Regions from separate parts of the Homo sapiens genome. Here region 1 is linked to region 2. Evidence: fine-mapped expression QTL. A gene starts in region 2. The other region holds a variant in brackets. All regions are shown on one strand. Distances are from middle to middle. Region 1 overlaps GPN2 (GPN-loop GTPase 2). Region 2 holds the start of SFN (stratifin).

Region 1 (5,372 bases), 21 kb before region 2:
CATTTTACTGTGTCAAGAAATATTTGAGTGCATGAGTGCACAAAGGAAAAAAGGAAAAAGGAACCTCGTCCTCAGGTCTTTAGCCTGATACTGGTTGCTCCTGAACACTGGTTTCTCTCTTTAGCCTTCAACCTGGACTACTACACAGAGGTTCTGGACCTCTCCTACCTGCTTGACCACCTGGCTTCTGACCCTTTCTTCCGCCACTACCGCCAGCTCAATGAGAAGCTAGTGCAGCTCATCGAAGACTATAGCCTTGTCTCCTTTATCCCTCTCAACATCCAGGTACTAGGGGCTAAGACGGGACTCTTGACAGTGCATGGGATTCACCAAGCCAAAAGCACAGGAAGCTTTGAGGGCTTAAAGAATGGTCTTTGCCGGCTGGGCGCGGTTGCTCAAGCCTCTAATCCTAGCACTTTGGGAGGCCGAGGTGGGCAGATCATGAGGTCAGGAGATCGAGACCATCCTGGCTAACCCAGTGAAACCCCGTCTCTACTAAAAATACAAAAAATTAGCTGGGCGTGGTAGCAGGTGCCTGTAGTCCCAGCTACTCAGGAGGCTGAGGCAGGAGAATGGCGTGAACCCGTGAGGCAGAGCTTGCAGTGAGCCGAGACCACGCCATTGCTCTCCAGCCTGGGCGACAGAGTGAGACTCCATCTCAAAAAAAAAAAAAAAAAAAGAGTGGTCTTTGCCCTGGGTTGAGTATCACTGAGAGTAACCTTAGTTTCAGGACCAGGGGCTGCTGTAGGGGCAGAATTCCAGTAAAGAGAGTGGACCAAACTTTTGCCCTGTCTATTTTGTGTTGCTGGATCCTCTCTTCACATGTTCTGTCCTCTGTGAAAATGGGTGAGTTCAGAAAGTCATCAGCAAGAAAGTTCACCAGGACCAGGGACAAGTCTCTTAAGCCCTTTCAACTGGGCAACTGTCTGTTGACTTTGCAAAGTGGTACCCAACCCCTGTGCCTCTCACCTTTACCCTGCAGAGATAACCTGGGAGACGCAGGTGCATGTTAGATTCCTTTCTGCAGTGGGTGGACTTGAGCTAACTTGTCTCCTCCCTTCTAATGCCACACTCTTCTGATATGAGGAGATGAACTCTATAATATCAATCACAACAATTACCTCTTATTTATGGCTTTCTGTGCTGGGCACTGTGCTAAGGACTACACATACATAATTTTGCTTTGTCCTTCCCACCATGTGATATATGGACTGTTCTTATCACTGTATGTGGATGAGGAAACAGTTATAGTTTTTTTTTGTTTTGTTTTGTTTTTTGTGACGGAGTCTCACTCTGTCACCCAGGCTGGAGTGCAGTGCGTTATCTTGGCTCACTGCAACCTCTGCCTCCTGGGTTCAACCGATTCTCCTGCCTCAGCTTCCCAAGTAACTGGGATTACAGGCATCCATCACCATGCCCAACTAATTTTTGTATTTTCAGTAGAGACAGGGTTTCACCATGTTGGCCAGGCTGCTCTTGAACTCCTGACCTTAAGTGATCTACCTGCCTTGGCCTCCCAAAGTGCTGGGCTTTACAGGTGTGAACCACCGTGCCTGGCCCAGTTATAGATTTAAAACATGCATATTCATTGGATGTCTACTTAAGAGAAGTACTGTGCCAGGCACTGGGAATACTGCGACAGATGACCTGGCCCTAAGGGGTGTTTAGTTGAGTAGGGGAGGCAGGTGAGTTAATAGGCGTTTATTACATGGCAGGGATACCATGTACAATAGGTGTAAACCCAGGGGACTGTGGATATGCATAGGGGAGCTTATCTGTTCTAATCTGAGTGAGTTGGTGGTCAGGAAACATGAGATTTATCCAGCCTTTGGGGACATGTAGAACTACTCCAGGCCAAGAAAGCTACAGGTACAGAGGCAAGATGGAGGAAGGTGTATTTAGAGATTGCAAGCAGTTTTACATACTTCTGTTTCACTCACAGAACTGTTTCTCTCCTCCCTGCTCAGGACAAGGAGAGCATCCAGCGAGTCCTGCAGGCTGTGGATAAAGCCAATGGATACTGTTTC[A/G]GAGCCCAAGAGCAGCGAAGCTTGGAAGCCATGATGTCTGCCGCAATGGGAGCCGACTTCCATTTCTCTTCGTATCCTTGCCAGCTTCCTGGCCATAGCAGAGAGGGTGAGACATGGGACTCAAGAATGGCCACAGGAGGTGCAGTCATCAACCTTGTGGATGACCAATTTCTTTTTTTTTTTTTTTTTTTGAGATGGAGTCTTGCTCTGTCGCCCAGGCTGGAGTGCAGTGGCACGATCTCAGCTCACTGCAAGCTCTGCCTCCCGGGTTCACGCCACTCTCCTGCCCCAGCCTCCTGAGTAGCTGGGACTACAGCCACCCACCACCACGCCCAGCTAATTTTTTGTATTTTTAGTAGAGACGGGGTTTCACTGTGTTGGCCAGGATGGTCTTGATCTCCTGACCTTGTGATCCACCCAATTTCTTTTTTCTTTTTTTTTTTTGAAAGGGAGTTTCGCTCTTGTTGCCCAGGCTGGATCGCACAATGGCGCAATCTTGGCTCTGTGTAACCTCTGCCTCCCATATTCAAGCAATTCTCCTGCCTCAGCCTCCCAAGTAGCTGGTATTAGTGTGCGCCACTGTGCCCAGTTAGTTTTTATATTTTTAGTAGAGACGGGGTTTCACCATGTTGGCCAGGCTGGTCTGGAACTCTTGACCTCAGGTGATCCACCTGCCTCAGCCTCCCAAAGTGCTGGGATTACAGGCATGAGCCACTGCGCCCGGCCGTGGATGACTGATTTCATATTGATCAGTTGGGCTTCCTGATGACTGTCTCTCATGTGCAAAGGTGGTCCCTTGGCTTCAGAGTTGGTTGTACTGAGGACAAGAGAGGATATTGATCAATAGGAGTAACAAATACAGAGGCCCAGAAATGAGAGGGCATTAGTCATTCGGGAGAGATGCAGGAGTCCAGTTCCTGGTGTGTTGCATGTGAAGAGGAAAGGGCGTTGCAGGGGTACAGGCAGGGCTGCCGAGGGAGGGGCCTGAGTGCCCTACTAAGGAATGTGGACTTCAGTTCATGGGTGGGCAGTGGGAGCAAGTATTCAAGCAGTACTGTTGAACAGGGTGTGACACAATCAGATGTACATTTTAGAAAAGCCCCTGCAATTGTGGAAAATGCATTTAAGGGACGTGATTGGGGGCAAAAGAGTTTTACAGTCTTGCTAGGTGAGAAGGGTTGAAAGATTTGTAGTGAGAATAGAAAGAAAGGTGTAGAATGGAAAAATACTAAGGAGATAGACTGTAAGAGTCAGTGACTGAATGGGATAGATGGAGCTGGAGTAGAACTTAGCTTCCCAGATCTCTGGCTTAGACGGTGGGTGGTTGTACTAATCACTGAGGCAGGAAAAGGAGGAGGGAGCAGGTTTGTCACATGGATGAAAGGGACAAGAGCTGGCAGATGTGCTGTGTTCAGGGGTCCATGGGACATCCAGAGCTGTCCAAGAGGCAGCCAGACTTTTGGAGCTTGGTTAGTGACTAATGAGGCTGGAGCCAAGGTCATGGGTAGGTGTCCATCAGGTCACAGAGGCCATGCGTGAAGCAGGACAGAAAAGTCCAGGCCCTCTAGGCTGATGCTCTCACAGATTCAGCATCTATGCAGCATGCTGGAGACAAGGGGGACTCAGGAGTCTTAGGGTATAGAGGAAAATAATTCCAGCCAACACTTACTGATGTTTCTCGAGCCATATGTGGGAAACAAAGCTCATGGGGTCGGGGTTGGAGGAATGACTTATAAATGATGGCAGTAGAGTGTGCAGTCCCTGATGAAGGTACTAAGGAGCTGCGTCACACCTGCAGTTAATGTAGGCCAATTGGACTGCATGTGCTCAGCAAAAGAGGGGAGGAGCAATTTTTTTTTTAAATTTAAGATGGACTTTCTTTTGCTGTTGTTGCCCAGGCTGGAATGCAATCTCCAACTCCAGGGTTCAAGTGATTCTCCTCCCTCAGCCTCCTAAGTAGCTGGGATTACAGGCATGCTCCACCACACCTGGCCCTTTTTTTTTTTTTTTTTTGAGACGGACCGTCAATCTTGTTGCCCCAGTTGGAGTGCAATGGTGCAATCTCAGCTCACTGCAACCTCCATCTCCCACGTTCAAGCAATTCTCCTGCCTCAGCCTCCCGAGTAAGTGGGATAATAGGCGCCCGCCACCACGCTCAGCTAATTTTTTGTATTTTTAGTAGAGACAGCGTTTTACCATGTTGGCCAGGCTGGTTTCGAACTCCTGAACTCAGGTGATCCACCTGCCTTGGCCTCCCAAAGTGCTGGGATTATAGGCGTGAGCCACCATGCCCGGCCTGCAACTTTTATATTTATTTCTTAGAGGCAGGGTCTTGCTCCTTTGCCCAGGCTGGAGTGCAGTGATGCAATCATAGCTCACTGCGACCTTGAACTCCTGGGCTCGTTACCCTCCCACCTCAGCCTCCCAAAGTGCTGGGATCACAGGCATGAGCCATCGTCCCCAGCTGGGAAGGGCAGTTTATGTTTGTTTATTTTGTGAGGCAGAGTCTCACTCTGTTGCCCAGGCTGGAGTGCAGTGGCGTGATCTCAGCTCACTGCAGCCTTGACCTCCCTGGGCTCAAGTGATCCTCCCACTTCAGCCTCCTGAATAGCTAGGACTATGGGCGTGTGCCACTGTGGCCAGCTAATTTTTGTAGAGATGGGGTTTCACCATACAGCCTAGGCTGGGAGAAGCAATTTAAATAATGTAGTATTTTGTACACCGTACAGATGGTTCCCAACTTATGATGGCTCAACTTTATGATGGTGTGAAAGCTATATGCATTCAGTAGAAATCATACTTTGGGTACCTATCAATCATTCTTTCACTTTCAGTACAGTATTCAATAAATTACATGAGATATTCAATACTTTATTGTAAAATAGGCTTTGTGTTAGATAATTTTGCCCAAATGCAGCTAACGTAAGTGTTCTAAGAATATTTAAGGTAGGCGAAACTAAGCTATGATGTGTGGTAGGTTATGTGTATTAAATGCATTTTCGACTTAAGATATTTTTGATTTAGGATGGGTTTATCAGGATGTAACCCCATCATAAGTCAAGGAGCATCTGTACGTTACTTTATGTATTCGTATATATAAAGGATTCTATTCACAAAACCATGTATGCTGCATTTAACAAATAATTTGAGGAATTTTAAAGAGTATTTTTAACCATATACATTTGTGCTGATTTTAGATTCTGCCCTGACCCTAACCCCCTTAAGATTCAGCAGCTCTCTGTAAGAGAGTAGGGACTGATACAAATAAGGGAGTGGTCAGCTTTGCTGAAGGGTAGGTGGGTAAGGAAAGCTTTATGGAGGCATGACACGTGAGTTGTGTCATTT
Region 2 (5,372 bases):
ACTCAACGGGCAAGCACTGCATTTTGCGATCCTGGCTCGTCCCGCTGCTCTAGAGGGTTCCCAGCTCTCGGGCCGGACGGGCGGCAACTTGTCTGAGTGAAACCGGGAAAGCTCCGCCCCTCGGCGCTCAGCGGGCGGCGGGGGCGCCTCTCAGTCAGTCAGCGAGTCGTGGTGTCCGCCAGGCCTGGCGGGCGGCGGGAAACTCGCCGCGCGCGTTCCGCCGCTCACTTTCCCATTGGCCAGTCAGGCCCCCGGGGCGGTACCCTGGGGCAGCTCCCTCCTGTGATTGGGCGGTATTGGCCTCGGGCCCCGCCTCCAGTCCAGGGCTGCGAAGGCGGGACGGAGCAAGGCGGCTGCAGGTTCCGGCGTGTTGCTGGCTGCAGAGAGCTCAGGCAGCGGGCTCGGTAGGCACAGCTCCCAGCGGCCCTTCCCACCCAGCTCGTCCTTCCTCCCCTTCAGCCCGTTTCCTTTTGTCTCCATCTCCGAACTCTGTGGGACGTGACCCTCTCCTAAGATCTAGGCTTTTTTGGCGGCGCTATACCCCTTCCTCAGATCGTACTCCCCTCCGCTGAGATCTGAGCCCTTGATGAAACTGTGACCCGCCTGCAAATCGGGTGCTCAGTGCCGCTCACTACTGCGGCGCTGTCCTTAGATCTCACGCCGGAGACTTCACTATTTCCTGCCCCGCTCCACCAGAGCTCGTCAGCCTCCCGCGCCGTGGCTCCCACTCACCTCCCCTCAGCCCGGCAGAGGAGCCACGGCGCCTCCTGTGGGTTCACCCGACCCTCCCGGTCCCGTCCAGTTTGACTGGGGCCGCCGTGATGGAGAGAGCCGGACCCCGGCCTCACCTGGACTCAAAGTCTTGCGTGCGGGCCACTGAGCCACCTAGGGAGTTCAGGGCCCTAACTCAGAGGTCCAAAGTCAGGGTCTCTAAGTCAGATTCCAGTCCCACTCCCAGCCCATCGCCAAGAACTGGAAGAGAGACAGGAGGAGTGTCACAGGGGAACTTTATTGAGAGGAAACATGGTCACACCCAGCAGACATGCTTTCCCTCAATCTCGGTCTTGCACTGGCGCGCGCGCACACACACACACACACACACACACACACACACACCCATCTCCAGCCCCTGCCACTGTCCAGTTCTCAGCCACAAGGCGGGACACTCCTCAATTCCTACGATCAGAGGCAGCAGGGGCAGGAGGGAGGCAAGAGGAGGGGAGAAGTAGCCTGGTCCTGGGGTCGGGAGGAAGCGGGTGCGGAGAGCAGGGGTGGGGGCATGACCAGTGGTTAGGTGCGCTCAACAGCTGCAAGAAGAGTGGGATCCCCAGCCCCAGGTGGCCTCAGCTCTGCCAGTCCCTCTCCACGGAGCCCTTTGGAGCAAGAACAGCGCCTAGGGGAGAAGGGTGGGGCCTCCCACCCCATACTAGTCCTCTCGGCAGGGTGGGGGACTGGAGGGGGCAGGGCGGGGCGGTGGCGGGCAACACTCAGCTCTGGGGCTCCTGGGGAGCCTCGCCCCCCTCTTCCCCGGCGTTGTCGGCCGTCCACAGTGTCAGGTTGTCTCGCAGCAGCTGCATGATGAGGGTGCTGTCTTTGTAGGAGTCCTCGCTGAGGGTGTGCAGATCAGCCATGGCCTCGTCGAAAGTGGTCTTGGCCAGAGAGATGGCCTCCTCGGGGCTGTTGGCGATCTCGTAGTGGAAGACGGAAAAGTTCAGGGCCAGGCCCAGGCGGATGGGGTTGGTGGGCGGCATCTCCTTCTTGCTGATGTCCATGGCCTCCTGGTAGGCTGACCGGGCTGAGTCAATGATGCGCTTCTTGTCGTCACCGGTGGCCACCTCGGCCAGGTAGCGGTAGTAGTCACCCTTCATCTTCAGGTAGAAGACCCGGCTCTCGGCGTCCCCGGCCTCCTTGATGAGGTGGCTGTCCAGCAGGCCCAGCACGGTGTCGCACACGCCCTGGAGCTCAGTCTCCACCTTCTCCCGGTACTCACGCACCTCGGGCCCCTTCTCCTCCGAGCCCTCCTCGTTGCTTTTCTGCTCAATACTGGACAGCACCCTCCAGGCAGCCCTCTGGCCGCCCACCACGTTCTTATAGGCTACTGAGAGCAGGTTTCGCTCTTCGCAGGAGAGCTCCTCGCCCTTCTCCACGGCGCCTTTCATGAAGGCTGCCATGTCCTCATAGCGTTCGGCCTGCTCTGCCAGCTTGGCCTTCTGGATCAGACTGGCTCTCTCCATGGCTCTGGGGACACACAGGCGGGCGGCGGGCTAACTGCTGCCTGGGACCAATGCCGGACTCTGTGTCTCTCCTGCTCTTGGCCTGCCTTTTGGCTGGGTGGCCAGGCCCAGAGAAGGGTGGGGAGGAGCAGGGGGCGGGACCAGGGCCCAAGACCTGCCTCCCTCTCCTCTCTTCCCCACACCCTTTCCGGCTCTGCAGTAAAGGTAAAAAGGCTGGGATGTGGGGGTGAATCATCAGAACAGTCAGCAGGAGAAATCTGGGCGTGGGCCCCACCTGCACTGGCACCTTTCCAGGCTCCAGGCTGCCCCCTCTTGTTCGGGGCTGGCATCACATGGCTGCCCACATCAGGAAACGGCTTCTCAAATCAGATCCACTTTCACAGTGCCCTTCCAGGGGCTAAGGACGGCTTTAGCCCCTGGCTGCTTCAGCCTCGACAGAGCCCATAAAGGTTCAGGAGGATGGGGTTCCTAATCCTGCCAGGTAACTTCCCCCCTTGGTTCAGGTGAGGATAACTCATGTTTAGGTAGGGCCATGGAGTTTCCCAAGCACTTTCATATTCACGATCGAATTTAATCCCCACCATGTCTCTGTGACACACACAGGACCATAGAGATGGGAACACTAAGTCTCAGAGAGGGGTGAGATTTGCTCAAAGTCACATAGCCACCAATTCCCTGAAACTCCTTTCTGCACCCTCTTCCTTTAGCTTTTCTCCCATTGAGGCCTCTGACCTATGAGCTCCAGACTGTGTTTGGAAGTGAGATCCAGGCTCCTTCTCAGTCTACCTGAAGATGGTTCCATCCTCCAGGCCTCATTCCCCCTCAGGGTCCCCTCTGAGCTCCCAGAATGCGCAGGTGGCAGCTTTCAGAGTGCCGCTTAATGAAGTGTTTAACAAGCAGCCTCTGAAGCTCCAGCCCAGCCTTTGTAATTAGTCACCCAGTAGGTTTGTTGGACACATTTCCCATCACTACACAATTTTCCCTTTCAAGTTGGTGGCCTGTTGCCACTTGTTTGAGGATTTACCCTCTGGCCCTCCACGCCAGGTCACCTGCCCTCTCCAAGCCACATGCCATCAGGTACCAGCGGGGCTCACAGAGGGTGGGGTCCAGCTCCCCGGCTGTCCCACTTTCCTGCCTGACTCAGACTGCTCTCTGTCTGAGGCTGGGAAGCAGTCCAGTTTGATCCCCCAGGGGGGACGCTAGCAACCTGGGGAGAGAGAGGACTGAGAAAGGGAGGTGGCAGTGACACATACCATTCTGTTTTATGGGGCAGCAATTCCAGCTACGTGATGCCTCCCCCAGCCTGTTTCTCAGAAGTTTACTTGTTCTTTCCTTTTTTTTTTTTTTAAATAGAGAGCAGATCTCACTACATTGCCCAGGCAGGTCTCAAACTCCTGGGCTCAAGCGATCCTCCTGCCTCAGCCTCCCAAAGTGCTGGGATTATGGGCATGAGCCACTGTGCCTGGCCTGTTCCTTCCTTTTGACCATTGCCCCATCTCTGACCCCTGGCAGAGTCCTCAGAGATGGAGACCTCTGTTGCCAACGTTCTTTCCCTGCTTGCCGGAGCCCTGGCCTCAAGTTTCATCAAGAGTTTCACCTAAGGGTGTTGGCATTGAGCCTATAGGGATGGATTCCTGCTTATCTGCCCCACCCATAGCCAAAGCTTAGATGGGGCTCAGAGGTAGGGCTCCCTTCACTGGGATTCTGCCGACCTAATAGTTGAGCCAGGATAATTTCACAGGCCTGTGTCTCCCCCAGCTACTCTGAGTGTCTGAACACTCATCTTCCCTCCTGGAGGGAGGCTTAGGCCAGAACTCTGGGGACCAAAGACGAGATCCTTCTCTTTGCCACAAGGAGGAGTAGGGACATGTCTGGGCTAATGCTACAGGGTTTCCAAGGAAGTAAAGGGGATTTTAAGTTTGACGTCCCAAAGATTTTGCTCAAATCAGAGAACTGACACAGAAAACAATAGGAACCACACTAAAATACCAACTTCTAGAGGGTATCTTGAGGTAGTGAGAGTGAGTGATTTTGCTTCCCTTTGATTTTCTTTCTTCTCAATTTCCTTTTTAGAGATAGGGTCTTACTCTGATGTCCAGGCTGAAGTACAGTGGTATGATCACAGCTCACTGCAGTCTCAACCTCCTTGGCCTCAGGTGATCCTCCTGCCTCAGCTTCCTAAGAATAAGGTGCTCACCACAACGCCCAGCTAATTTTTGTATTTTTTTGTAGAGACAGGGTCTCACCATGTTGCCCAGGCTGGTCTCGAACTTCTGGGTTCAAGCAATCCTCCTGCCTTGGCTTCCCAAAGTGCTGGGATTACAGGTGTGAGTCACTACACCTGGCCCTTTTGATTTTCTTATTCTCTCCAATTTATAAATAGTGAATATAGGTCGGACGCGGTGGCTCACGCCTGTCATCTCAGCACTTTGGGAGGCTGAGGTGGGTGGATCACAAGGTCAGGAGATCGAGACCATTCTGGCTAACCCAGGAAAACCCTGTCTCTACTAAAAATACAAAAAATTAGCCGGGCATGGTGGCACATGCCTGTAGTCCCAGCTACTCGGGAGGCTGAGGCAGGAGAATCGCTTGAACCCGGGAGGCGGAGCTTGCAGTGAGCCGAGATGGCGCCACTGCACTCCAGCCTGGGTGACAGAGCAAGACTCCGTCTCAAAACAAAACAACAACAAAAAAGTGAATATGTATTGTTTGTCTATGAGATACAGAATAGACTAGTATCTTTGGAATCAGACTGCCTAAATGTAATTCTTATAGCTGTTTGTGGCCTTGGCCAAGTGATTTAAGCTCTGTGAGCCTCAGTTCCTGTAACTATAAAATGGGACTTGTGAGGATTACACGAGTTAATGGAAAGCACAGTAGAATGGATGGCAACTATTATTATTATTATTTTCTTTTTTTTGAGACGGAGTTTCGCTCTTGTCACCCAGGCTGGAGTGTAGTGGCACAATCTCAGCTCACTGCAACCTCCACCTCCTGGGTTCAAGTGATTCTCCTGCCTCAGCCTCCCGAGTAGCTGGGATTACAAGGGTGCACCACCACACCCAGCTAATTTTTGTATTTTTTTTTTTTTTAAGTAGAGATGTGGTTTCACCATGTTGGCCAGGCTGGTCTCGAACA

Evidence for each region. PIP is the estimated chance that this variant, and not a neighbour inherited with it, causes the effect.
Region 1: its variant is the best candidate, but not a certain one, in a credible set for the expression of SFN in lung (TOPMed, PIP 0.59).

The regions. Positions count from the first base shown.
Region 1 is chr1:26,880,886-26,886,257 of GRCh38, reverse strand. GPN2 (GPN-loop GTPase 2) reads left to right here. Exons shown (of 5, transcript NM_018066.4): 3 at 125-285; 4 at 1,968-2,098. Among named protein-coding and RNA genes, the nearest start is that of GPN2, 6.7 kb to the left of the region's middle. The variant A/G (reference allele first, on the strand shown) is at 2,028.
Region 2 is chr1:26,860,075-26,865,446 of GRCh38, reverse strand. It overlaps SFN (stratifin), which reads right to left and starts at 2,298. Exons shown (of 1, transcript NM_006142.5): 1 at 991-2,298. The coding sequence starts at 2,234. The coding sequence ends at 1,488. RefSeq lists enhancers at 1-249, 460-589, 1,734-2,613 and a silencer at 2,483-2,632.